Homo sapiens: one gene and its partners. The protein of the gene in region 2 interacts with the protein of the main gene of each other region in a pairwise test. Each region holds a gene or a part of one and is shown on either strand. Other genes may lie near its edges.

What was found.
Region 1: the proteins of EVI5L (region 2) and RAB10 interact in a two-hybrid assay, tested with the Homo sapiens proteins (one study listed by BioGRID).
Region 3: the proteins of EVI5L (region 2) and KRT79 interact in binary tests that used the Homo sapiens proteins (3 or more experiments, as listed by UniProt).

Annotation. Positions count from the first base shown.
Region 1 is NC_000002.12:26,106,699-26,114,899, reverse strand, and holds part of RAB10 (ras-related protein Rab-10), read right to left. Parts: intron 5,133-8,201; coding exon 4,994-5,132; intron 1-4,993. UniProt on the Homo sapiens protein: The small GTPases Rab are key regulators of intracellular membrane trafficking, from the formation of transport vesicles to their fusion with membranes.
Region 2 is NC_000019.10:7,846,808-7,855,008, reverse strand, and holds part of EVI5L (EVI5-like protein), read right to left. Parts: intron 7,278-8,201; coding exon 7,088-7,277; intron 6,089-7,087; coding exon 5,864-6,088; intron 5,754-5,863; coding exon 5,679-5,753; intron 5,013-5,678; coding exon 4,887-5,012; intron 3,576-4,886; coding exon 3,432-3,575; intron 3,329-3,431; coding exon 3,239-3,328; intron 1,924-3,238; coding exon 1,826-1,923; intron 1,737-1,825; coding exon 1,676-1,736; intron 1-1,675. UniProt on the Homo sapiens protein: Functions as a GTPase-activating protein (GAP) with a broad specificity.
Region 3 is NC_000012.12:52,823,782-52,831,982, forward strand, and holds part of KRT79 (keratin, type II cytoskeletal 79), read right to left. Parts: intron 7,846-8,201; coding exon 7,625-7,845; intron 6,512-7,624; coding exon 6,451-6,511; intron 6,338-6,450; coding exon 6,242-6,337; intron 582-6,241; coding exon 417-581; intron 232-416; coding exon 106-231; intron 1-105.

The DNA of each region.
Region 1 (8,201 bases), on a different chromosome or scaffold from region 2:
GACAGAGTCTCACTCTGTTGCCCAGGCTGGAGTGTAGTAATGCAATCATGGTTCACTGCAGCCTCGACCTCCTGGGCTCAAGTGATCCCACCTCAGCCTCCCAGATAGCTGGAACTACAAGTGCATACCACCATACCCGACTAATTTTTTTTTTTTTTTTTTGTATATTTTTGTAGAGATGGGGTTTCACCATGTTGCCCAGGCTGGTCTCAAACTCCTGGGCTCCAGCGACCCACCCACCTTGGCCTCCCAAAATGTTGGGATTACAGGTGTGGGTCACCATACCCAACCTTTGTGGTCCATTTTGAGTTAACTTTTCTGTATGGTATGAAGTAGGTGTCTAACTTTCATTCTTCCACACAAGGATAGCCAGTTTTCCCAGCACCATTTGTTGGAAAGACTATTCTTTTGCCCATTGAATTGTCTAGCCATCTTGTTAAAAGTCAACTGACCATATATGTAAGAGTTTATTTTTAGACTCTCAATACTATTCAATCAATCTTTATGACTATCCTTATGTCAGTATCACAGTGTTTTGATTATTGTGGCTTTGCGGTTAAGTTTTAAAACCAGAAAGTATAAATCTTACAACTGTGTACTTCCTTTTCAAGATTATTTTGGCTACTCTGGGTCCCTTGCCTTTCTATATTAGTTTTAGGGTCAATTTGTCAATTTCTACGGGGGGGAATTTTTAAAAAAGCAATTGGGATTTTGATAGGGATTGCACTAAATCTGTAGATCACTTTGGGTAGTAATGCCATCTTAATATTGTCTTCCAATTCACAAATAATGGCTATCTAATTATTTAGATCTTTAATTTCTTTCAACAATATTTTGTGGTTTTCTGTGTTCAAGTCTTACACTCTTTTGGTTAAATTTACTCCTAAGTATTTTTTGCCTTTTGATATTATTACAAATGGAAATTTATTCTCAATGTAATTTTTAGGTTATTGCTAGTGTACAGAAATAAAGCTGATTTTTATATGTTGATCTCATTTCTTGTAACCTTGCTGAACTTGTTTATTAGTTCTAAGAGTTTTCTGGGTATATGTTTGTGGGTTCTTAAGGATTTTCTATATAAAATATTCTACCATTTATAAATAGTTGTTTCACTCTGGATGGCTTTTTTTCTTTCTTTCTTTTTTTTTTTTTTTTTAGCTCTGGCTGGAACTCAGCATAATGTTGAACAGAAGTGGCCAGAGTAGATATTCTTGCCATGCTCTTGATCTTAGGGGACAGGTACAATAATAGCTGTGGTATTTTTATAGATGTCACTTACAGGATTAAGGAAGTTCTTTGCTATTCCTAGTTTGTTGACTTTTTTTTGAGACAGAGTCTTGCTCTGTCGCCCAGGCTGGAGCACAATGGCACGATCTTGGCTTACTGCAACCTCCACCTCCTGGGCTCAAGCGATTCTCCTGCCTCAGCCTCCCGAGTAGCTGGGGTTACAGGTGTTTGCCATCACACCTGGCTGATTTTTGTATTTTTAGTAGAGACGAGGTTTCACCATGTTGGCCAGGCTGGTCTCGAACTCCTGACCTCAGGTGATCCACTTGCCTCGGCCTCCCAAAGTGCTGGGATTTACGGGTGTGAGCCACTGCGTTTGGCTGACTGTTTTAATCATAAAAGAATGTTGGATTTTGTCAAATGTTTTTTCTGTGTGAACTGAGATAACTGTATGGTTTTGTCGTCTATTAATATGGTGTATTACATTGACAGGTTCTGACCCTTGCATTCCTGGGTAAGTTCCTCTTGATCATGTTATATAATCCTTTAATACACCAGAGAAACAAGATTTCCTCTTTCTTTCTTTTTGAGACGGAGTTGCACTCTGCTGCCCAGGATGGAGTGCAGTGGTGCAATCTTGGCTCACTGCAACCTCCTCCGCCTCCTGGGTTCAAGTGATTCTCCTGCCTTGGCCTCCTGAGTAGCTGAGACTACAGGTGCCCACCATCATGCCCGGCTAATTTTTTGTGTTTTTCATAGAGACAGGGTTTCACCATGTCGACCAGACTGGTTTCAAACTCCTGACCTCAGGTGATCCGCCTGCCTCAGCCTCCCAAAGTGCTGGGATTACAGGCATGAGCCACTGCGCCTGGCCAAGATTTTCTTTTTAAATAACTTCTTTTCTTTTTCAGAGACAGAGTCTCACTCTGTCACCCAGGCTGAAGCACAGTGGTATGATAATAGCTCACTGCAGCCTTGAATTCTTGGGCTCAAGCAATCTTTCTGCCTCAGCCTCCCAAGTAACTGGGACCACAGGTGTACACCACCACACCCACAATTTTCCTTTTTGATACCTGGGTTGTATGTTTCTCAGTTTATCTTGGGAAACAAACCATCCAGTCTACCATGTCAGATGTTTAAGTCTGCGGTATAATAAAAACATATATTAGGTCTTTGTTCCCAGTTCCTGTCACTGACCTCCCAATTTCCTGAGTGACAGGGTTGTCTTTTGTTATTCATAACAAGATTCTTTTGACTATAATGAGTTTATGCTAATGAGGTGACTGATGACAAGGCTCCTATCTAGCTTCAGAATGGGGGCTGGTCTCCAGAGGAACCAACCAAGTGATAAGAGGATTGGAAATTTCAGTCCCACTTCCTGACCTCCTAGGAGGGGAAGGGAGACAGACATTACACTCAATCACCAGAAGTCAATGATTTAATCAATTATGCCTAAGTGATGGAACTTCAATTCAAAAATCTGAAAAACTGAGGGTAAGGAATATTCCAATTCGGTGAACACATCAAGGTGCTGGGAGAGGTGGCGTATCCAGAGAGGGGATGGAAGCTCTGGAGCCCTGCCGCTACTCCCCACATATGCCTCTCTTCCATTTGGCTGTTCCTGAATTGTATACTTTATAATGAAACTGTAATCCCAAGTATAGCATTTTCCTAAGTTCTATGACTCACCCTAGCAAATGATCACATGGAGTGGCATTGTTGGCATCCCCAAAATCTATAGCCAGCTTGGACAGAAGGCAGAAATGTGGGTAAGCCTGGGGACCCAGGACTTGCAAATGGCATCTCAAGTGAGGGCAATTTTGTAGGAATGAGTCCTTAAACTTGTGGAGTCTGATACTAATTCAGGGTAGTCAGTGTCAGAATAGCATTGAATAGCAGGACACCAGTTCATGTGGTAGAATCAGAGAATTGGTGGTTGTTGGAAACACACTGCAGAATCTCTAAACTGCTCTTACTACAGACTACTTACCTGAACAATAAAATAAAGAATAAGGAAATCAAAATAAAGCTTTTTTGTTTTAAGATTTGTATTTTTTTTTTTTTTTGAGATGGAGTTTCGCTCTTGTTGCCCAGGCTGGAGTACAATGGTGCGTGATCTCAGCTCACTGCAACCTCCACCCCCTGGGTTCAAGCGATTCTCCTGCCTCAGCCTCCCAAGTAGCTGGGATTACAGGCATGTGCCACCCCACCCAGCTAAGTTTGTATTTTTAGTAGAGACGGGGTTTCTCCATGTTGGTCAGGCTGGTCTCGAACTCCTGACCTCAGGTGATCCGCCCACCTCGGCCTCCCAGAGTGCTGGGATTACAGGCGTGAGCCACCGCGCCCAGCCAAGATCTGTGTATCTTTAAATAATTATTAAAAAATAATAAGCTTCTCCCAAAGATTTATTGTAGCAACAAAACAGTGGTAATGAGCCCTTAGGATTGCTACCATTAGGGGTATTATCTTGGGTCTAATATTGGTTTAAGACTTGGTCTTTGTGTATCTGGCCAAAATTTGCTTCAAAGAGTTACTGTTAACAAAACTCAAAGCCTAGAAGGTAGCAATAAGGCATGAAAAACAACTCTTAACAAGAAGCCACCTATGCTGTAGCAAAGAAACAGACATGCTTTGATACATAATTTTAACTTATAAAAAGTAACATCAGGCTGGGTGCAGTGGCTCATGCCTGCAATCCTAGCACTTCAGGAGGCCAAGGTGGGCAGATCACTTGAGGCCAGAAGTTCAAGACCAGCCTGGCCAACATGGCGAGACCCCATCTCTACTACAAATACAAAAATTAGCCGGGTGTGGTGGTGCACACCTGTAATTCCAGCTACTCAAGACACTAAGACACTAGAATCACTTGAACCCAGAAAGCAGAGATTGCAGTGAGCCAAGATTGTGCCACTGCACTCCAGCCTGGGTGATGAAGTGAGACTCTATCTCAAAAAAACCCAAAATACAGAAAAAAAAACAACATTTTCACATGCAATGGAACTATTTTCTTAGTTAGGTTTTTACTATATTAGTATTCCATATATTTCAAAATGCCTAGAAGCAATATTATATTTCTATAACATGAAAAATAAAGTTTTAAAAAATTACTACCGGACATTTCATTCATTCAATAAAAATTTATTAAGAAAAAATTCATTTCCAGAAAATCATTGTAAAATCACTGGTAGCTTCTATTTGGGGTCATCTTGTAAGATGGCTATACAGAGTTTTGGAGTAATTTACTAATTGTCTTGAATGGGGCTCTAGATAGACTGTCCAAAAACTTAAGAAAAAATTAGCAAATAACAACATTAACTTTTTTTTTTTTTTTTTTGGAGACGGAGTCTTGCTCTGTTGCCCAGGCTGGAGTGCAGTGGCGCAATCTTGGCTCATTGCAACCTCTACCTCCCAGGTTCAAGAGATTCTCCTGCCTTGGACTCTTGAGTAGCTGGGACGACAGGTGCACATCACCACACCCAGCTGATTTTTATAATTTTTAGTAGTGATGGGGTTTCACCATGTTGGCCAGGCTGGTCTTTAGCTCCTGACCTCAGGTGATCCTCCCACCTCAGCCTCCCAAAGTGCTGGGATTACAGGCATGAGCCACCATGCCCGGCCAACATTAACTTTTAGAAAATAGAAATACTTCAATAATAATGACTTCAACAGTACATTATATCCTGAAGATCAGTTGGAATATTTATTCTTCCTAACCAAGCACACAAATGTGTGTTCATGAAGGGTTTATACAAGTTCTAGGTCTTACCTCATCTATGTTTCTAAGCCATTTGCTGATGTTTTCAAAACTTTTACCATTGGTGATGTCATATACTAGCATGATACCCATTGCGCCTCTGTAGTAGGAGGTTGTGATGGTGTGAAATCGCTCCTGGCCTGCTGTATCCCTGAAATAAACAGCCAATAATTTCTATTAAGCATTTTGATATTACTACATTTCACATAAAGGACAAAACAAGAATAGTTTTTCCTAAGTATATATAAAAACTTTTTAGTTGAAGGAAATTAATAACCTACCCATACTGGATGAAAATCTGAAAGGGAAAACAGTAGGAAGTGACACATAAAACTCAAGTTTATTGAATAAGCACTAGCAAACACCATAGAAACTCTTAAAATTTCATTTTATTTAATAATTTAGTTCCATAATGTAACACAAAAGCAGGTAGGATTTTTAGAACATTAGAGAACTATACCATAGTACAGTCATATTTACATTTAGAATCATTAACCAAAAGTTGTAAAGATAACCTCACTTATAAATAATAAGACAGAAATGTAAATAGTAGTATTTTCCATTATTTAATGCTTAAAGCCAAAGGTGTAAGATGTATTTTGCTCCTGTAACTATGCCCTCTCATTTGTATCATCATTTTGCTCTTTTATGGATCATCTCATCAGCTTACAAACATGTTTTAGTATCTTTTTTAAAAAAGCAAAAATAAGGTCGGGCGCAGTGGCTCACACTTGTAATCCCAGCCCTTCGGGAGGCTGAGGCGTGTAGATCACTTAAGGTCAGGAGTTCAAGACACTTGGCCAACATGGTGAAACCCCATCTCTACTAAAAATACAAAAATTAGCCCGGCATGGTGGCACGTGCCTGTAATCCCACCTGCTCGGGAGGCTGAGGTAAGAGAACTGCTTGAACACAGGAGGCACAGGTTGCAGTGAGCCAAGATGGTGCCACTACACTCCAGCTTGGGTGACAGAGCGAGACTCCGTCTCAAAATAAATAAATAAATAAATAAATAAATAAATAAATAAATAAATAAATATAAAGCAAAAGACCCCAATCTCAACCCTGTATCTCTCCAACTATCCCTGCTCCTCTTTCGAGTTAATATTTTTAAAACTTTTATTTTGAAATAATTACAGCCTTACAGGAAGTTACAAAACTGTGCAGAGAGGTCCTGGGTACCTTTCACCCAGCTTTTCCTAATGATAACATCTTATATTACTGCAGCATAATAGCAAAACCAGAAAATGGACATTGGATACAATCTACAGACCTTATTAAGATTTCAGGGTTTTTTTTTTTTACATGCACTTATTTGTGTATGTGTGTATATATAGTTCTCTACAATTTATTACATGTACAGATTTGTGTAACTACCACAAGACAAAGAACTATTACATCACCTCTTTACTCCCCATAGTCCCTAAACTCTGATCAATAATCTGTTTTCTATGTTTATATTTTTTTCATTTCCAGAATGTTACGTAAGTGGAATCATGTAGTATGCTACCTTTTGAAATCGGCATTTAACACTTCTTTCACCATAATGCTCTTGAAGTCCTCTCAAGTTTTGCACATAATCCTGGTCTGTCCCATTTCATTGCTGGGTAGCATTCTATGGTATGTCTGTATCACAATTTGCTTAATTATTCACCCATGGAAGGACATTCAGGGTTGTTTCCAGTTTTTGGCTATAACAAAGTTCGAAGAATATTCATTTACAGGTTTCTATGTGGACATAATTTTTCATTTCTTTGAAATAAATGCCCAGGAATGTTATTTATGGGTAATATGGTAAGTGTATAACGGTAAGAAACTGGCCAACTTTTTCCAGAGTGGCTCTATCACTTGACATTTGCACTAGCAACATATAAAAGATCCAGTTTCTCTGCATCCTCACCAGCATTTGATGCTGTCACTTTTTTATTTCTGTAGTTCTAAGAGGGCACATAGTAATATTTCATCATCACATTAATCTGTATTTCCCTGTGGCTAAGATGGTGAACATTTTTTCATGTGTTTATTTGCCATCCACATGTCCTCTTTGGTGAAATGTCTGGTTTTTTTTTTTGCCCATTTTCTAATTGGATTGTTAGTTTTTTGTTTTTGGGGTTTTTTTTTTGAGATAGAGTTTCGATCTTGCCGCCCAGGCTGGAGTGCAATGGCACAGTCTCGGCTCACTGCAACCTCTGCCTCCTGGGTTCAAGTGATTCTCCTGCCTCAGCCTCCCAAGTAGCTGGGATCACAGGCGCCCACCACCACGCCCAGCCAACGGTTGTATTTTTAGTAGAAATGGGGTTTCACCATGTTGGCCAGGCTCGTCTCAAACTCCTGACCTCAGGTGATCAGCCCGCCTCAGCCTCCCAAAGTGCTGGGATTACAGGCGTGAGCCACCGTGGCTGGCCTGGATTGTCAGTTTTTTTGTCTTTTTACTGCTGACTTTTGAAAGTTCTTTTTATACAGAAGTCCTTTGTCAGATACACTGGCTTGTAAATATTTTCTCCAAGTCTGTAGCTAGTCTTTTCATTCCCTTGACAGGGTATTTTGTAGAGAGGAAGCTTTTAATTTTGTGAAAGTCTAATTAATTTACTGATTTTTTTTTCTTTTACAGATCATGTGTTTAGTGTTATGTCTAAGAATTCTTCACCTAGTCTTTTTTTTTTTTTTTTTTTTGAAACAGGGTGTCGCTCTGTTGCCCAGGCTGGAGTGTAGTGGCACGATCTTGGCTCACTGCAACCTCCGCCTCCCAGGTTCAAGAGATTCTCCTGCCTCAGCCTCTGGAATAGCTGAGATTACAGGCACGTGCCACCACATGCAGCTAATTTTTATATTTTTAGTAGAGATGGGTTTTCGCCATGTTGGCCAGGCTGGTCTTGAACTCCTGGCCTCAGATGATCTGCCCGCCTCAGCTTCCCAAAGTGCTGGGGTTACAGGCGTGAGCCACCACACCCAGCCTCTTCACGTAGTCTTATGTTCCAAAGATTTTCTCCTGTATTTTCTTCTAAAAGCCTTATGGGTCTTTTTTTCTTTTTTTGAGACAGAGTCTTGCTCTGTCGCCCAGGCTGGAGTGCAGTGGTGTGATCTCGGCACATTGCAACCTCTGCCTTTCGGGTTCAAGAGATTCTCCAACCTCAGCCTCCCAAAGAGCTGGGACTATAGGCGTGTGCCACCACACTGGACAATTTTTGTATTTCTAGTAGAGACGGGGTTTTGCCATGTT
Region 2 (8,201 bases):
AAGGTGGTACAGAAATTGTTTGGATTGGCAGGTGAGTGAGGGCCCTGCCACACTGCAGGTCACACAGAATATTTCCTGGGTTTCTTCTGGGGAGAAAAGGTGATGGAAACACCTAGAACATTCCCAGGAAGCAAATGCAGTCAGACAGAACCGCAGACTTGACAGTCATTGATGCATGTCATGTGGGGAAACTGAGTCAGAGTGGGGCAGGGCATTGCCCTAGTCCCTCAGTTCAGCTGGGTCAGAGCTATTTCAGGTCTCTGGTCCTCATAGCAATCTGGAGCCCTGATCCCTGGCCCCTGGGTTTCCCTATCATCTCTCTGGCTTCAACCCATCACAGCACCAAGCACAGCCATCCTTGCAGGAGCTGGGCACACCTTTTGTATTTATTTCTATATTTTTGTAAAGACGGGGTATTGCTATGTTGCCCAGACTGGTCTCCAACTCCTGGCCTCAAGCCACCCTCCCACCTCAGCCTCTCAAAGTGTTGGGATTACAGGTGTGAGCCACTGTGCCGCTGGAGCTGGAATTGAATCCTTGTCTGTTGGACTCCAGTGTTAGCCACTGTGCGGCTCTGCCCCTGAAGAGCATGGAGCCAGGCTGTGTTGGGTTTGTGTCTGTGTCCCTTCCTATCACTGGTGCGCCCTCAGTCTCAGCTGTGACTTTGGCACACAGCAGGTGCTCAATAAATGTTTTTTTTCTTTTCTTTTCTTTTTTTTTTTTTTTTGAGACACAGTCTCACTCTGTCGCCCAGGCTGGAGTGCAACGGTACAATCTTGCCTCACTGTAACCTCCGCCTCCCGGGTTCAAGTGATTTTCCTGCCTCAGCCTCCCGAGTAGCCAGGATTACAGGTGTGTGCTACCACACCCAGCTAATTTTTGTATTTTTAATAGAGACGGGGTTTCACTGCATTAGCCAGGCTGGTCTCGAACTCCTGACCTCAAGTGATCCACCTGCCTCCGCCTCCCAAAGTGCTGGGATTACATGCATGAGCCATCGCGCCCGGCAATAAATGCTTGTTGAGTAAATAACTAAAATCACGTGTAAAGGGAAGAATGCGCAAGGAAGGAGAGAGAAGCTTTGCACACTCAGGAAACCCCCTGACCTGGCAGGGCTGGTGGGCCAGTTGCCCCAGGAACCAGGGGCCCCGGGTGAGTGCCCACACCCTGCCCTACACACCCTGGTGTCTGGGCCCTGCGTGCTCCATCTTTCCCCAGAGGGCGGTCCCCTTGCGGGGTCCTCCACTGCAACCTTCTTGGAATTCCTCCAGCCCCCAAGGCACGCTGCTGCCCTGGGCCTTTAGCCCTCGACACCCTGGGCCCGGAGCCTCTGCCCAAGTCAGCCTTGCCCACCGCGTGCACATCCTTGTCCAGAGCATTTAGAGTCCGCACTCTAGTTCAGTGGTTTATTGATTGCTTCCCCATGACGCTGGGCGGCCCAGCGGGGCAGGGACCTTGACTGTCTTGGTTACCGCGGCGTCAGGCGGGGGAGGCGCTCACAGCTGGCCTAACAGGTGAAGGACGGCGCAGGTGGGCGGAGGCCTGTCCGCCAAGGACCGCCGGGTCCGCCTGTGCGCTGGGAAGGCCCGCCCCCTAGCGGCCGATCTTTAGAGTACGGAGGGCAGCCCCCAAAGGCCTCCCATCCCTGTCCCCGCCCCTGGGCCCCTGGACTCACTTTGATCTCGATCTGCTCCTCCATCTCCTTGCTCTTCATGGCTGCGTACTCCTTCTCCAGCCTGCAGATCGGGAGGGCCCCGTGGTTACTGTCATGCCCTCGGGGGTCCCCCCTTCTTACCAGTACCCTGGTTGCCCAGCAGGCACCGACCTCTTCATCTTCTTGGGGTTGTACTTGACCTGGTAGGCTTTGAGGACCAGCTTGTCCGGGCAGCTGTCGAACTGGTGGGGGATCACTCTCTGGAAGTACTGTGGGGACACAGCCGGTCACCTGGTCACCAACATGCAGGCCCTGACCACCGGGGGCCGCCCGAGCCCTGTTGCCCTGGAGGGGGGCAGGAACGGGTCTGCCCGGGGTGTCGCCATGTCCTCAACGCCGTGTCCTCAGTGTTTGTGGAGCAATGGAAAGACTGAGCGTGAGGGGAGGGAATGGGGGACTGCCTGCAGCCAAAGCCTTAGTTTCCAGAAGAAAAGCTGGCAGATGCTGGATGTGGTGGCTCATTCATATAATCCCAATGATTTAAAAGCCTGAGGTGGGAGAAATAAATAGCTTGAGCCCAGGAGTTTGAGACCAGTGTGGGCAACATAGTGAGACCCCATTTCTGAAAAAAAAAAATTAGCTGGACATGGTGATGTACACCTCTGGTTCCAGCTACTCAGGAGGCTGAGGCGGGAGGATCGCTTCAGCCCAGGAGGTGGAGGCTGCAGTGAGCTAGGACTGCACCACTGTACTCCAGCCTGGGCCACAGAGCAACTCCGACTTAAAAAAAAAAAGAAAAAGGTAAAAGAAAAAAAGAAAAGCAGGCCAAGGAGGCTCTCCTGGGAGTGAAGGCTGAGGGTCGGGGGGTCTGACAGAGGGGACCTTCGTGGGGGAAGGAGGATGGGTATGCCGGGGGCCTCGGGCCTGTGCAAAGGGTTAAGGTAAGCCCAGGGGGGACACAGCTCCTGCACCCGGCCCAGCTGGCCCCCTCTGGTAGCTGTGGACAATGCCTGCCCATGTTCACGGACACAACCGTGGCCTTTGTGCATTCTTCCCTGAAGCACCAGCTGGAGGACGCGGGGAGGGGGCAGGGGCCCGCACAGCAGAGAAGTAGCGGTGGGAGGCAGGCTGGCCAGCAGCAGGGCCTCCAGGCAGGCCGGGCTGGGGCGGGGCAAGGCGTGAGGTTGCCTAGACCCCCAAACTCCCTCCTGTGCCCTCACCAGGCTGGGCGGCAGGGTGGGGATGCCCTCATGGTCAGTCAGTCATGATCTGCCATCAGGCTTTGGGGCATCTGCGGGGTTGGGGGCAGGAGGTGGGCAGTGGGGCTCCCAGGGCTCAGCCTGGGCCTCCTGTCTCCCTGCGGCCAGGCTGCTGGCCCCTGACTGTGTCTGGCAGAGCCTAGGGGGTCCTCTGGTCCCTTAGGGAGACCTCAGGGGAACAGAGTGGATGGGAACAGATCAGGGATGTCAGGCACACCACCTTCCACCCTCGAAGCCGGGCCCTCTCTGTCACTTGTGAGGGCATCCTGTGACTCGAAGCCCCTGATTGGGGGCAGCCCCACCGGCCCTGGCCCTCCCGGCCCACCTGGGACATCCCCTCCATGTCCAGCTGCATCAGCTCTGCCTGGTTCACCTGCAGCAGGGCGAGGCCCACTCGGAACACGATCTCCAGCCCCTGCAAAGGCGGCAAAGGCAGTGGGAGGTGGAGGGCAGGGAGGCTCCTGTTCCAACCACCCCCAAGGGGCTCTCTTCCCTCCCCAGGCACCATCGGTCCTCACCTCATACATGAAGATGTCAAAGACCCGGGTGGCGACGGGGAGTGGGAAGGTGGTCAGGAACAGTGTGAGGAACCAGGACGAGGCATACATGGATGTGTGGAAGCTTTGGGAACGGAAGTGGGTGTTGAGGTCTGGGAGCTGCTCCTGCAGGGGTGGGAGGCCGGGTGGGCACAGTGAGGGGGACGCCCTCCCACCGGGGGGTGCTGGGCCTCAGTGTCCCCGCCTCCAGGGAGCCTTCCTGGACCTGCGCTGGGCAGCCTGAGGCTCCCTTCCTGGTGCTCCCTCAGCACTCTGTCTGAGGGAGGCCGAAGCACCCCCGAGCTTTGAGTAGCACGGGGTGGGGGACAGGCAGGGATGGCAAGATCTGTAGCCGCCTGTGTTGGGGGCCCACCCTGGGTAGGTGATGCGCCCGTGGCAGCTCATGGGGTCCTCACGACAGCCTGAGAGGGTGTGTCTGAGGCTGGGGGAGTTGGGTCACTCCCCACAGACACCCTGAGACCCAGAGGTGGAGCATGGGCAAGTGGCAGCCTCTGGCCCTGGGGGGAGCCCCCCCCCCACCTTGTTACGTGACCTGCCAGCCACTGTACCTCCCTTGGACCCCAGCATAAAGCTTTGTGCAAGCTGTGTTGGATTGGCCTGAACTCTAGACAGCCAGAAAGTGGCAGACGGCTGGGGAAACTGAGGCCGGAGAAGGCGTTAGGATCCCGGGCTTCCTCCCAGCGCCAGGGGCTCTCTGCGCCCTGAGTTTGCAAGCTTGGCTGTGGGAGGGCTCTGCTACCCAGCCTGAGGTGGGGTGGTGCCTTCTCTGCAGCCCAGGCCTCCTGCTTGTGGCACTACCAGGCCCCCTAAGGCTACAGCACCGTCCATGATCCAGGCCCAGGGAGTGGGGCTGTCACATCCAGGGATGACTGCACAGCCCCACCTGCCATGGCAGCTGAGGCGGGCCGGTGTGTGTGTGTGTGTCTGCGTGTGTGTGTATGCATGCGGGTGTGTGTATGTTCGCAAACGGCCTTGGCGGCTCTGCCTGCCAGCCGGGAGCAGGCCCTGCGGGGGCTGCTATTTATAAACAGACGTCTGCGGCTCTCCAGTAATCAGGCAGGCAGACAACACTCCCTCCTTCCACCACACTCTGGAGCAGACAGGGAGGTGGCTGTGGCTGTGTCCGATGTGAGCCTGCCCCACCCCTCTGCCTCAGCAGCCCTGGGAGCCCCCCTTCAGTGGTGGCTCTCCTGTTCCTCCAAGCATCCTTCAGGGCAGTGCTGCATGGAAAGAGGAGTGCCTTTTGGAGTTGGAACGTCCAGGTGTGATTTCACAGGCTTGGAATTTTCAGTCCAAGAGGTGCCCGGGTATGGTCTAGGGTGCCAGCCCTGCCCTTCTGCGATCCTGCTCCCTTGCGGCCCTGCCCACCTGTGGCCCTGCCCTCCTGCAGCCCTGCTCTCCTGCGGCCCTGCTCACCTGCAGCATGTACTCGAACTGATAGATGCAGAGCCCGAGCTCGGCCATGCTGGGTTTGAAGAGCTCCCGCAGCCGGTACTCCTGCATCAGCCGCACGAACACACAGAAGGCCTCCTCCTCAGGCATCTAGGGGGGACGGGCAGGTGGGGGGGCTCAGGGCAGCGCAGCGGGGAGGGGCATCTCGCTGCTCATCAGGGCCCTGGGGTACAGGGGCCCATGTCCATGTCGGTACCTGGCTCCCTAGACTCTCATGACACACTGTTGGTCCCTGTGTCCTCACAAGCTGTTTTACTGATGGAAGACCTGAGGCTGAGGTCACCTGCCAAGGGCCACTCGGCAGGAAACAGGGGAGCTGGACCTGAACCCAGGGCTGGCCACTGCCAGCATCCCCCTGGTTAGGATACCTCCTGTCCCAGCTGCGTCCTCTCTCCCTGTCAGCCTCCCGATTTCTCTGGAGGAGACCCCCAAGCCCCATAAACACCACGCTGGATGGCTTAAGTCCCCAGCCTGAGGTTCCTGTCCAACCCTGAGATGTGGCAGAGAGAGACAGCCTATCCCTCCAAACCCGGTCTCTGTCCTGGATGGTACAGCAGACAGGACCCAACCAGACAGGTGCCACTCACTGGGCCTTGGCCTGGCGATTGGCAGAGGTCACGGGTGTGGATGGAGAAGGAGGATCTACCCCTAGCAAGACGCTGGGTGGAGGACACGCCACTTCTGTCCATCTCTTGGGGGCCGAGCCCAGGGTGGGCTGTTGTCTGGCAGGAGCCCAGCCACCCCCCAGCCACCTACCTGCATGAGGAGCAGGCCCACGATGAAGGCGCTTCCCTGGCAGTAGCCCACCTCCCGGTCTACCAGCGAGTATGCCTAGAAGGGAACAAGTCCTGAGAGCAGGGTCCCGCCGTCCAGCACAGCCGGTGAACTGGGGAACTTCTCCTTCCTTTGGGACCGAGGGAGCGGGGAGCCCTGGGCCTCACCTTCATGACGTTGAAGAGGACCTCCTGGCCCAGGCTGTCCTGGCCCTTGAAGAACTCATGTTCCGGGTAGGTGCGGGCGATGTCCCTGCGGATCAGCTTCTCGCACGGCGAGGACATCTTGAGCAGCTCGGAGTACTGGTTCTTGACGGGCATGTCCGTGGCGCTGCACAGAAGCTGCCACACGATGGCCCGGAAGTGGTGGGGGATGCCCTTGCGGATCAGCTCCTGGCCACGGGAGCGGGAAGCGGGGGCTGGACTCGGTCCCAGCGCAGCCTCCCCGTGGCCACCCAGCCCAGCTCCTCAGGCGTGGCTCATCCAGGCCTCAAGCATGGCACAGAACTCATGGTCCCCAATCCTTTTTTTACCCCCTTTTTTCAGAGACAGGGTCTCCCTCTGTCACCCAGGCTGGAGTGCAGTGGTGCGATCATAGCTCCCTGCAGCCTTGAACTCCTGGGCTCAAGCGATCCTCCTGCCTCAGCTTCCTGAGTAGCTGGGACTACAGTTGTGCACCACCACGCCTGGCTAATTTTTAAACTTTTTTTTTTTTTGAGATGGAGTCTCACTCTGTTGCCCACGCCGGAGTGCAGTGGCGTGATCTTGGCTCACTGCTACCTCTTGCCTCCCAGGTTCAAGTGATTCTCCTGCCTCAGCCTCCCAAGTAGCTGGGATTACAGGTGCACGCCACCACGCCCAGCTAATTTTTGTATTTTTAGTAGAGTCGGAGTTTCGCCATGTTGGCCAGGCTGGTCTTGAACTCCTGACCTTAGGTGATCTGCCTGCCTCGACCTTCCAACGAACTGGGATTACAGGCGTGAGCCACTGCGCCCGGCCTACCTGGCTAATTTTTAAACTTTTTATAGAGTCGGAGTCTCATTACGTTGCCCAGGCTGGCCTCGAACTCCTGGCCTCAAGCGATCCTCCCACCTTGGCCGCCCAAAGTGCTGAGATTCCAGGCGTGAGCCACCACACCCCCATCCTTCATGGGCACTACAGGGCAGCAAGCACATGGGCACTCGAGGGTGCAGGGCCTGTCCAGCACCACCCTGACTCACTCTCTCCTGTCCCTGTGCTCTGGCAGGACACCCTGAAAGTGCCTGCACATCTCCACTGCTGCCGCTGTGCCCAGGCTGGGGCCCCGCAGACCCTGGCGCTGCCTGGTGGCTGAGTGACCGCACCACCTGCCCACGCCGTCGGCCCAGCCCTGCCTGCCTGGCCGCCCCCCACCTTGAGCAGCTTCTCCTTCCTGCGCCGCCACTCCTCCCACTCGTTGGCGATCCGGCCCCACAGGATCCACGTGTCCTCCTCCAGGTGGCTCAGGTTGGAGGAGGCCGAGGAGCTGGACACTAGCGAGGAGCCACTGTTCCGCCGCGAGCCATTCATGGAGCGCATGGACTTGGAGTCGGCCTCCAGGAGCCTGGGCAGGAAGGGCCGACAGAGGGGAACCAGTGACTCCCTGGGGACAGGGATCCTTGGCGAGCCCAGCCCATCCTCCCCCTCCTGGGGGTCTTAGAGGACACCAGGGATTAGGTCCCTCTTGTTCTTTTTTTTTTCTTCTTCTTTGAGATGGAGTCTTGCTCTGTCGCCCAGGCTGGAGTGCAGTGGTGTGATCTCAGCTCACTGCAACCTCTGCCTCCTGGTTCAAGCAATTCTCCTGCTTCAGCCTCCTGAGTAGCTGGGATTACAGGTGCATGCCACCACACCTGGCTAACTTTATATTTGTAGTAAATATGGGGTTTCACCATGTTGGTCGGGCTGGTCTCGAACTCCTGACCTCAGGTGATCCACCTGCCTCAGCCTCCTAAACTGCTGGGATTACAGGCTTGAGCCACTGCCCTCAGCGCCCCCTTTTTTTTGAGACGGAGTTTTGCTCTTGTTGCCCAGACTGGAGTGCAGTGGCGTGATCTTGGCTCACTGCAGCGTCCGCCTCCCGGGTTCAAGTGATTCTCCTGCCTCAGGCTCCCAAGTAGCTGAGATTACAGGCACCCACCACCATGCCCAGCTAATTTTTGTGTTTTTAGTAGAGACAGGATTTCACCATGTTGGCCAGGCTGGTCTCAAACACCTGACCTCAAGTGATCCGTCTGCCTCGGCCTCCCAAAGTGTTCGGTGGTGTGAGCCACCACGTCCAGCCTAAAACCTGCATTTTAAATGGGGGTAGGGTCAGAGGAAGAAAGCAGGAAGGCCCGAATCGACTCTTCCTCCAGTCCTGGCTCCATTAACCGCGGCGGATTCACAGATTCACTTGACCTCTCAAACCTTCAGTCTCATCTGAACAGGGTGGGGACACATATATTCAGCCAGGGTTGGGAGGATGAAAGGAGGTGTCTGTCCCTCATCC
Region 3 (8,201 bases), on a different chromosome or scaffold from region 2:
CTATTGTGTCCGTCAGGAGAAGAGCAGGCCTAGCCCCTCGGGGTGACAATGAGAAGGCCCTGCCAACACCTAGGCCAGACCCCCAAGCCCCCAGTAGAGTCCCACCTGCTTCTTGGCTGCATCAGCCTCCCCCTGCAGCCTCTGGATAGTGCGGGTGAGCTCAGCAATCTCGTTCTTGGTGTCCCGCAGGTTGTCCCCATGCTTCCCAGCAGTCACCTGCAGCTCCTCATACTGGGGACCAAAGAAGTGGCAGTGCGCTTTCAAATGGCCCCAGCCCACCCTCACAGCTGGAGGCCCCATGCAAGTTGAGTATATCTGGCCCCCCGGACTCCAAGGGTCCCAGAGGCCCAAGCCTCTCACGATGGGAGATCTGATCCGACCCCAGGCCTCACACCTGAGCCAGCTATGCCTCTCACCTTGGTCTGGTACCAGGCCTCGGCCTCAGCCCGGCTCCTCTGGGCAATCAGCTCATACTGGGCCTTGACCTCGGCGATGATGCTGTCCAGGTCCAGGTTGCGGTTGTTGTCCATGGACAGCACCACATTGGTGTTAGACACGTGGGTCTGCACTTGGCTCAGCTCCTGAAGAATCAGAGACAGCTGCCACCAGCACCCCTGCTCCAGGCCCCAGGAAGCATCAGAGGGTGAAGGACATGGGCCCCCAGGTAGCATCAGGAGGCCTGTGCTCTTGTCCAGGCTCCAGCCTAGAGCAAAGTAAGGAAAACTGCAAGGAAAGGCCTCAGTCTCCCCAGCTATAAAATGAAGCTCCCATTTTTACAGACTTCATTTATTTTTATGGGTTTGCAGGCTTCCAAAAGATTAGAGAGGGTAAAGAGAATGTGTACTCTCTGCACTAACACTGGTGCCCGGCACTGTGCTAGCACATTCACTAACCCCTCTAGGCCTCAGAACACCCTGTGCAGCTGGCAGGCCCATGGCAGGCTCACAGGGTGCCTTTGTGCAAATTGGGGAAAGACACCCCTTCAGGTGGAAACAGCATGTCCAGCACCAGCCAAGTCACCAACTGCACCACCATCCACAGTAGTCCTGACCATGGACAAGTGAGGAAAGAGGTTTGGAGAGGAGAAGTGATGCATCCAAGGGCACCAGGTCCAGGGTGGGACCCAGCCTGGGACCAGTCAATTGCACCACAAAGCCCAAGTGGTTTCCTCTAGAGCACACTGAAAAGTATAGACTGTCTTGATGTTCTTGGGCCCTCCTGTTTCTAGAACCATCGTCCTTCACACATAAGTAGGCTTCAGGATGCTGTGAATGGCGGGTTAGGTGATGGGGAATCAAAGGTCTCTGTTCTGGCCTTGGGACCAGTGGGATCGCTGGGCCAGGACTGTGATGGCTCCCACGTGGGGCTCTGCCTCCATCTCTCCCATGGTCCTTCCTGCTCTGGGCTGCCCATAGAATGCCCTAAACTCCAGCTCTGACAAATCACTCATTCACTCAGTAGTCCTCAGAGGCTCCCTGATAGGTGGAGAACCTTCCCCCTAAAACCCAACACCTCCCATATCCTGGTCTTGTCTCCATCCTTTCTCAAACACTGGCCCTTCATGGCAGCCCAGGGAATTATAATAGAATAATAATAACAACCCTCGCATGCTGAGCATCACTGTGATTCAGGCTCTGTGTTAGGCATGTGGCAGGTACTAACTCATTACATGCCCTTTTCCAGTAGCACAAAGAGATTAAGTAACTTGGCCCAGATCACAAGCCAGTAAGTGAGGAGCTCAGTTTCAAACCCCAGGAGTCTGACATCAGAAGCTGAGAGGACGTAGACTAAAATAGAGATAGGCAGGAACAAAGAGAGACAGGGGGAAAAGAGAAATACCAAAGGCAAAACTGATATCCATACTGATGTAGATGTAGATTGTTAAATTAGATTGTCTTTCAAAAAGTGGGATGAGGAGTTTAGAGATGCAATCAATCTAGTCACTACAAAAACTTGTGGTTTTTGGGAAGATATGAGTTTTGGAGATAGACAAGCCTGAGATCAAGTCCCCAGCCTAACACGCACTGGCTGTGTAGCTGATGTAGCAGCTGAGCCTTGCGATGCCTCAGTTCCCTCTTCTGTAACACGGCCTGATCATACTTTCTTCCTGTGGTGGTTGTGGGGCTTAAGATCCATGTATGACCCATGGCATGTGCTGAGTAAAGTGCATTCTTACTTTCCCAGACTTCTCTGAAGGCCACTGGAGGTGCCCATAAGGTCTATTTGTCACAGATAAGATTGTGTTGTCACAGCTGCTTTGTCTCCTTCCCCACCGAGATGAACTGTCAGCATCATCTTGACGCATCCTGCCCCTGCCCTCCTTAGCTCAGGGTCTCTAGCCCCATGTCAGAGCATAGTCCTCAGGAAAATCAACCCGAAACTTTTAAGACAAGGAGGCAAAATCTCTCCACTGGATGGCATCAAGAGTGGATGAGGTGATGCAATGGTCTTGCTGGAACAAGGGGATAGAAAGGTCAGGCTTGGCCAGGTGCAGTGGCTCACACCTGTAATCCCAGCATTTTGGGAGTTCAAGGCTAGCCTGGGGAAAATGGTGAATGCTGTCGCTACAAAAAATACAAAAATTAGCCAGGCATGGTGACGTGCGCCTGTAATCCCAGCTACTTGGGAGGCTGAGGTGGGAGGATCGCTTGAGCCCAGGAGGTCGAGACTGTAGTGAGCTGTGATTGCGCCACTGCCCTCCAGCATGAGTGACAGAATGAGACCCTGTCTCAAAAAAAAAAAAAAAAAAAGTCAGGCTTTCCGATGAAAGGGAGCTCGTGAAATCAGAGCAGAAAGAGCTCTGTGAATCGCTAAGGTGTGTGTCTCCTTAGACACCAGGGACTCTAAGGGGGAAAGACAGTGGAGACTTCTAGGCAAGGGTAAAGGGAGCCAGCGGGCAGAAGTGGCACAAGCGGAAGAGGGACTGGGTTCCACAGATGCCCCAGGCCAGAGGGAGGCCACCATGGAGGCTGCCTTCCTGCCCTATGAGACACCCAGTGATAGGTGGTTCATCCCCCAGATTGCCGTGGGATCTGGCTTGGCCAAAACCAGATCATGGCATTGGTTACTGAGAGCCATGCTGGTTCCGTGACTGATCGAGCCCATGAGGCAGCAACAGAACAATTGTGCTGATCCTTGTTCTCACCCCACGGAGGCACTGCTGGGCCGTGAGGACCTCTGACAGGAAAGGGCCCAGGCTTGGTCCCTACCACTCTTTCCCTTGCCTCCTGCTCACCTAACTGTGCCCACACACTCGATGTGGGCACTCACCACCCACTGGTCCCCAAGCACCATGTTCCTTCATGCCTCCATGACACTGCACAGGCTGGGCCCCAGGCTGCCAAGTCCTTCCTGCTCCTCCTCTAGAAGTCTAGCCCTTCCATCAAGATCCAACTCAGAAGTCACCTCCCTCGAAGGCTTCCGCAGCCCTCCCAGGAAGGGTCAGCCATGGCGTCCCATGTGCCTTTGCACCTGTGCCTGTCCCCCACAGCTCTCATCACTTGATAACCTGGCCCCACAAGAGCTGAGACTTTGTCTTTGTTGCTATGTGGAAGGTGCTCAGTAAATGTTTGTTAAATAAACAAGGCATAGCAATGGAAAGGAATGCTGAGTATGCCAGCCATGTCCTTAGACCAAAGAAAAGCCAATTCCTAAACATTCAGAAAAGAGGGGGAGAGAGAATGGAACCTAATGGACCACAAGGAGGCCCCAGACCATGAATGACTATCAATGACCCTGGCAAAGTAGAAACTGGGGAAGCACCTAAAAACTCAGCATGGCAGCCCAGAAAACTTCCCAGTAAGTTCCATCCAGACAGGCCGTGCAGAGATGCTGGAAGGCAAGCAATCCAGCCAAGGATAAGCCCGGGAAACACCAAAGCCAGGGGTCAGAGGCTGCTAGATGAACTCTAGGCAGAAATAACACGGAGGTCCCTTTGGGCTGATCCCTACAGAAGATCCAGGAAAGGCCAATCGCTCAGCTGCTTTGTCATTTGCCTCTTTTCCATCAAGAACAAACTGGTCATCAAAGTGGAAAGCACAAGAAATATGCTTGAGAGGAAATGGGAACCCAAGACAGGGTAGATGAGAGACCTTGGCCTTGTTGGAGATCACAGGGATCCAGGCTAGAAAAGCATACACTCAGAGGCTCCAGGGACTGCCAAGGGAAGGAACGCCCTGGTCATCCTTGAGAGATATGGAGAGGAGGAGACCCCAAAACCCCAAACGCAGCAAATGGCCTGATTTTCAAATGGGAGAGATTTGGAATTTTTCAAATAAGGCTGACATCAACCTCCTCCAGACCCATAGAATGAATTCCTAAATGTGTGTGAGAGGCATGAAGCCATCATGGGTTCCCTAAGGAAAAGTGGAACCAAGTGGATTTCATTTTCCTTCATGATTATAATATTAAACTGCTAAAGGCCTGCCATAGACAATGTCTGACCAAGCCTTCCATAGCATTCTTGAAAGAAGACAGAAAAATGTGATCCTGGTAACAGTACTGTTAAGGGGATTTTAAAGTAGCTGAGGCTCTTTAACCACAAATTATTGGTTAACAGACTAACAGTCCCTTGGAAAATCACCACTGAAGACCCACAGGACTTTGTTTTAGGCCCTGATTGCCTTAACATGTGTATCAATGATTTACACTGAGATGCTATCAAATACCTAGACTGAAAGTTTATCCCACCTGCAGATAACACAAAGCTATGCATCACTAATACACTGGATAAAAGAATCAAGTTACTAAGAGCCCACATAGCTTAAAATGTTGGGATGACACCACAGTGGCATTTCATAGGAAAGAAAGGGAATGGTTAACTGTTCCACTCAATTGCAAAATTCAGCTACCCACATACAGGAAGTTGGAGGAGAGTAGATACATGTCTCATTTGAAAGCATTTATGTGAAAAAGTCCAGAAGGGGTTCTAAGAAAGCCAACGTTGTGAAACAACTTCTAAAACAACACATAAACTAGTGCACTATTAGGCTGCATCAATAGAAGTTTGTATCTGGAACCTCCCTCCCCACCCCTCCATCTTCTGAATACTTCACTAAAAGCCCTGTTTCCTGAACGTCCTCACATGCCACAGATTTTTATCCTGTCATCATCATGACTTCTAAAGGGCTATCATGTGAAAGGCATAAGTCACAAGAAGACAATTGGGCAAAGTCAAGGGCAGAAGTCATGAGAAGGAGATTCAAGTCAGTGCTCTAATGAAGTTGTTCAACAATGGTAATGCCTGCCCTAAAAAGTAGTGAGCTCACTGCCACAGGAAGTATTTGAGTAGAGGTTACATATGATAGGGTTATGTCAGGGATATCATAGAAATTGTTCTTGCACTGGATGGAAGGTTGGTCTTGAGGTCCCTGCGGACCCTAAGAGTCTGTGATTCTGCGGTCAATTCATGTTAAGTTCAACCCTCTCACTCTAGTCTCCAAAGCCCTCTTGTCTCCTGGAACCCCTCCTGGATTCTTTAATCTACCCACGCCTCACCTTCTACTCCAATCTGGAATCCCAGTCCCTCCTCTCTGCCCATTCCTGCTCCCTCATCCCTTGCTCCATTACAAACCGGGCAGGAAGAGGGCAATATAACAGTGGTAAGAGTCAGACTTCGGAGTTCAAGAGCCAGATTTGAATTCTAGCATGCTTCTTCCTAGCTATGTGACCACGAGCAACTCTGAGCCCCAGGGTCCTTGACTATAAAATTGAGACAATAATAGTTCTTGCATTCTGGGGTTATTGAGAAGATTATGTTAAAAGTTTGCCCCCGTGCCTGGCCCATCAAAAGCACTTAATAAGTTGAAGCTAGTATTAATTAAAGTGTCAAGGTTTTAGGCTGGGTGCGGTGGCTCACGCCTGTAATCCCAGCACTTTGGGAGGCCAAGGCGGGTGGATCACCTGAGGTCAGGAGTTCAAGACCAGCCTGGCCAACATGGCAAAACTCCATCTCTACTAAAAATACAAAAATTAGCTGGGCATGGTGGCAGGCACCTGTAGTCCCAGCTACTCCAGTGGCTAAAGCAGGAGAATCGCTTTGCAGAGGTTGCAGTGAGCCAAGACTGTGCCACTACACTCCAGCCTGGGTAACACAGCGAAACTCCGTCTCAAAAAAAAAAGTGTTAAGGTTTCATCTTCCACCAATGAGGTTGCACTGGTGAATTCAGGTCAGACCTCCATGGAAAACGCCCAGTGCTGTTTATAGTGTATGCAAACTCTCCCTGCCCATTGGCCACCTCACCATTTCATAGAGTTGCTGCAGGAAGTCAATCTCCTGGGTCAAGGTGCCCACTTTGCCATGCAGATCCATCCGGCCCATGTATGCTGCATCCACATCCTGGGGACGAGAGAGCAAGACAGATCCTCAGGCCCCAGGGATGTCCCCTCTCCCCGAATCAGCCCAGTACCCTGGCAGCCAAAGGACCACCTCCCCCACTCCACTCGGCTCACCTTCTTGAGCACCACAAACTCGTTCTCTGCAGCAGTGTGCTTGTTGATTTCATCCTCGTACCTGTTACACATGGGAGACTCAGGCCAGGCTCAGCCTGGCTCTGCCTTTCAGGCATGGGACCCACTCAGCCTTACAGAAGCCCTGATGGGTCCCTCACTGATCAAGAACACCTCTGGGGAGCAGTTCTTTAATGTAGCCAACCAGTGAAGAAACATGGGGTCTGCCTTGATTTAAACATTCTCTCTCCCCACCCCATTTTAGGGAAAGAGGCACAGAATTTGTGCAATAATATGGCAATCAAGAGCTGCCATCTCTTTGGATCCAAGCCCTTAGGAGGCTTTAGAGGGACAAGTGAAGATGTGTCAACAGTGGCTGACCTTTACCATCACTTTCAACAACACAGTGTCATTCAAACCAGCTAACTCCTCCCCAACCACTTTTGATGAGATTTTAAGGTTTAGAAATTGCCATGGTCAATTTATGGGAAAAGTCATTTTTAAATGTGCGTGTTTAAAAGTTATAAATACGCATATCAACCAATTATAATATATAAACCTTTGGAGCTTGAGTCAAATAAGCTGTATTTTTTAAATTTATGACATGTATGGGGTCACTGGAAATTCAAAACTGGCTGGATATTTAATGATATTGAGGAATTATTGTTTTAAAATTTTTTAGGTGTGATTATGCCACTGTATGTTTTACTGAGTCATAGATGAACTACATTCACATGCAGATATATGAATATAACTTGTAAAATATTAGTGAATGAAATGACAAGATGTCTGGGATTTGCTTCAAGACTACAAGGGAATCAGAACACGTAGAAAAAGGCAAAGGTAAAAAAAAAAGACTACACGGGAAGAAGGGAAGTGGGGAGGTGTAAAAAATGCAACAAGATTGGTTATGAGTTGATAATGATTAAAGCTGGGTGACAGGAACATGGGGTTCATTATACTATTCCCCCTACTTTAAAAACTTTTTTAAATTACAAACAAACCTGCCAATTCTCCAGGTGGCAGCAGGTGCTGGACCTGAGCACCTGAGGGAGCCAGCTCTGTCTGTGCATCCCCCAGGTGGGCCTGGGACCCTGGGAATGGGGTGGCCCTCTTGGCAGGTTTCCCACTGCCCCTCCTCACTCCCACATGGCCCCGCCTGGCCTGCTCTCCTCACTTGTTCTTGAAGTCCTCCACAAGGTCCTGCACGTTCCTGAGCTCTGAGTCCAGCCTCCCCCGCTCGCTCTGAAGTCTGTCCAGCGTGCTCCGCATGCTACCCAGGTAGGCCTCAAAGAGGGGCTCCAGGTTGTTCCTGGTGACACCCAAGTTCTGGCCCTGCTCCTGCAGCAGTGCCCACTTGGTCTCCAGCACCTTATTCTGTTGCTCCAGGAACCGCACCTGAGCCAGAGCAGAAAGGGTGGGCTGATGTCACCCTCCGGTCACCAGAGGAGCCAAGGATGGGGTCCATTGCCACCTCCCCTCCAAGGCCAGGGCAACATAGGGACGCTGCAGCCGCACCTACACTTTGCTGTGGGGAGGCACTCCTTAGGGGAATAGACTGCTGGAAACGACCGTCCAATCTGATGGAAAGAACTCTACCAAGTTAATAAGCACAAAAGCCCAGCTCAGTAGCAGTACCAATTTACTAGTTGGTAACCTTGGTCGAATCATTTCTCTCTGAGTCTCCCTCTCTCACTTGTCCTGCATAAACTGGACTAGATCTATGTTTCTGACCCCTAATTCTGCATTAAAAT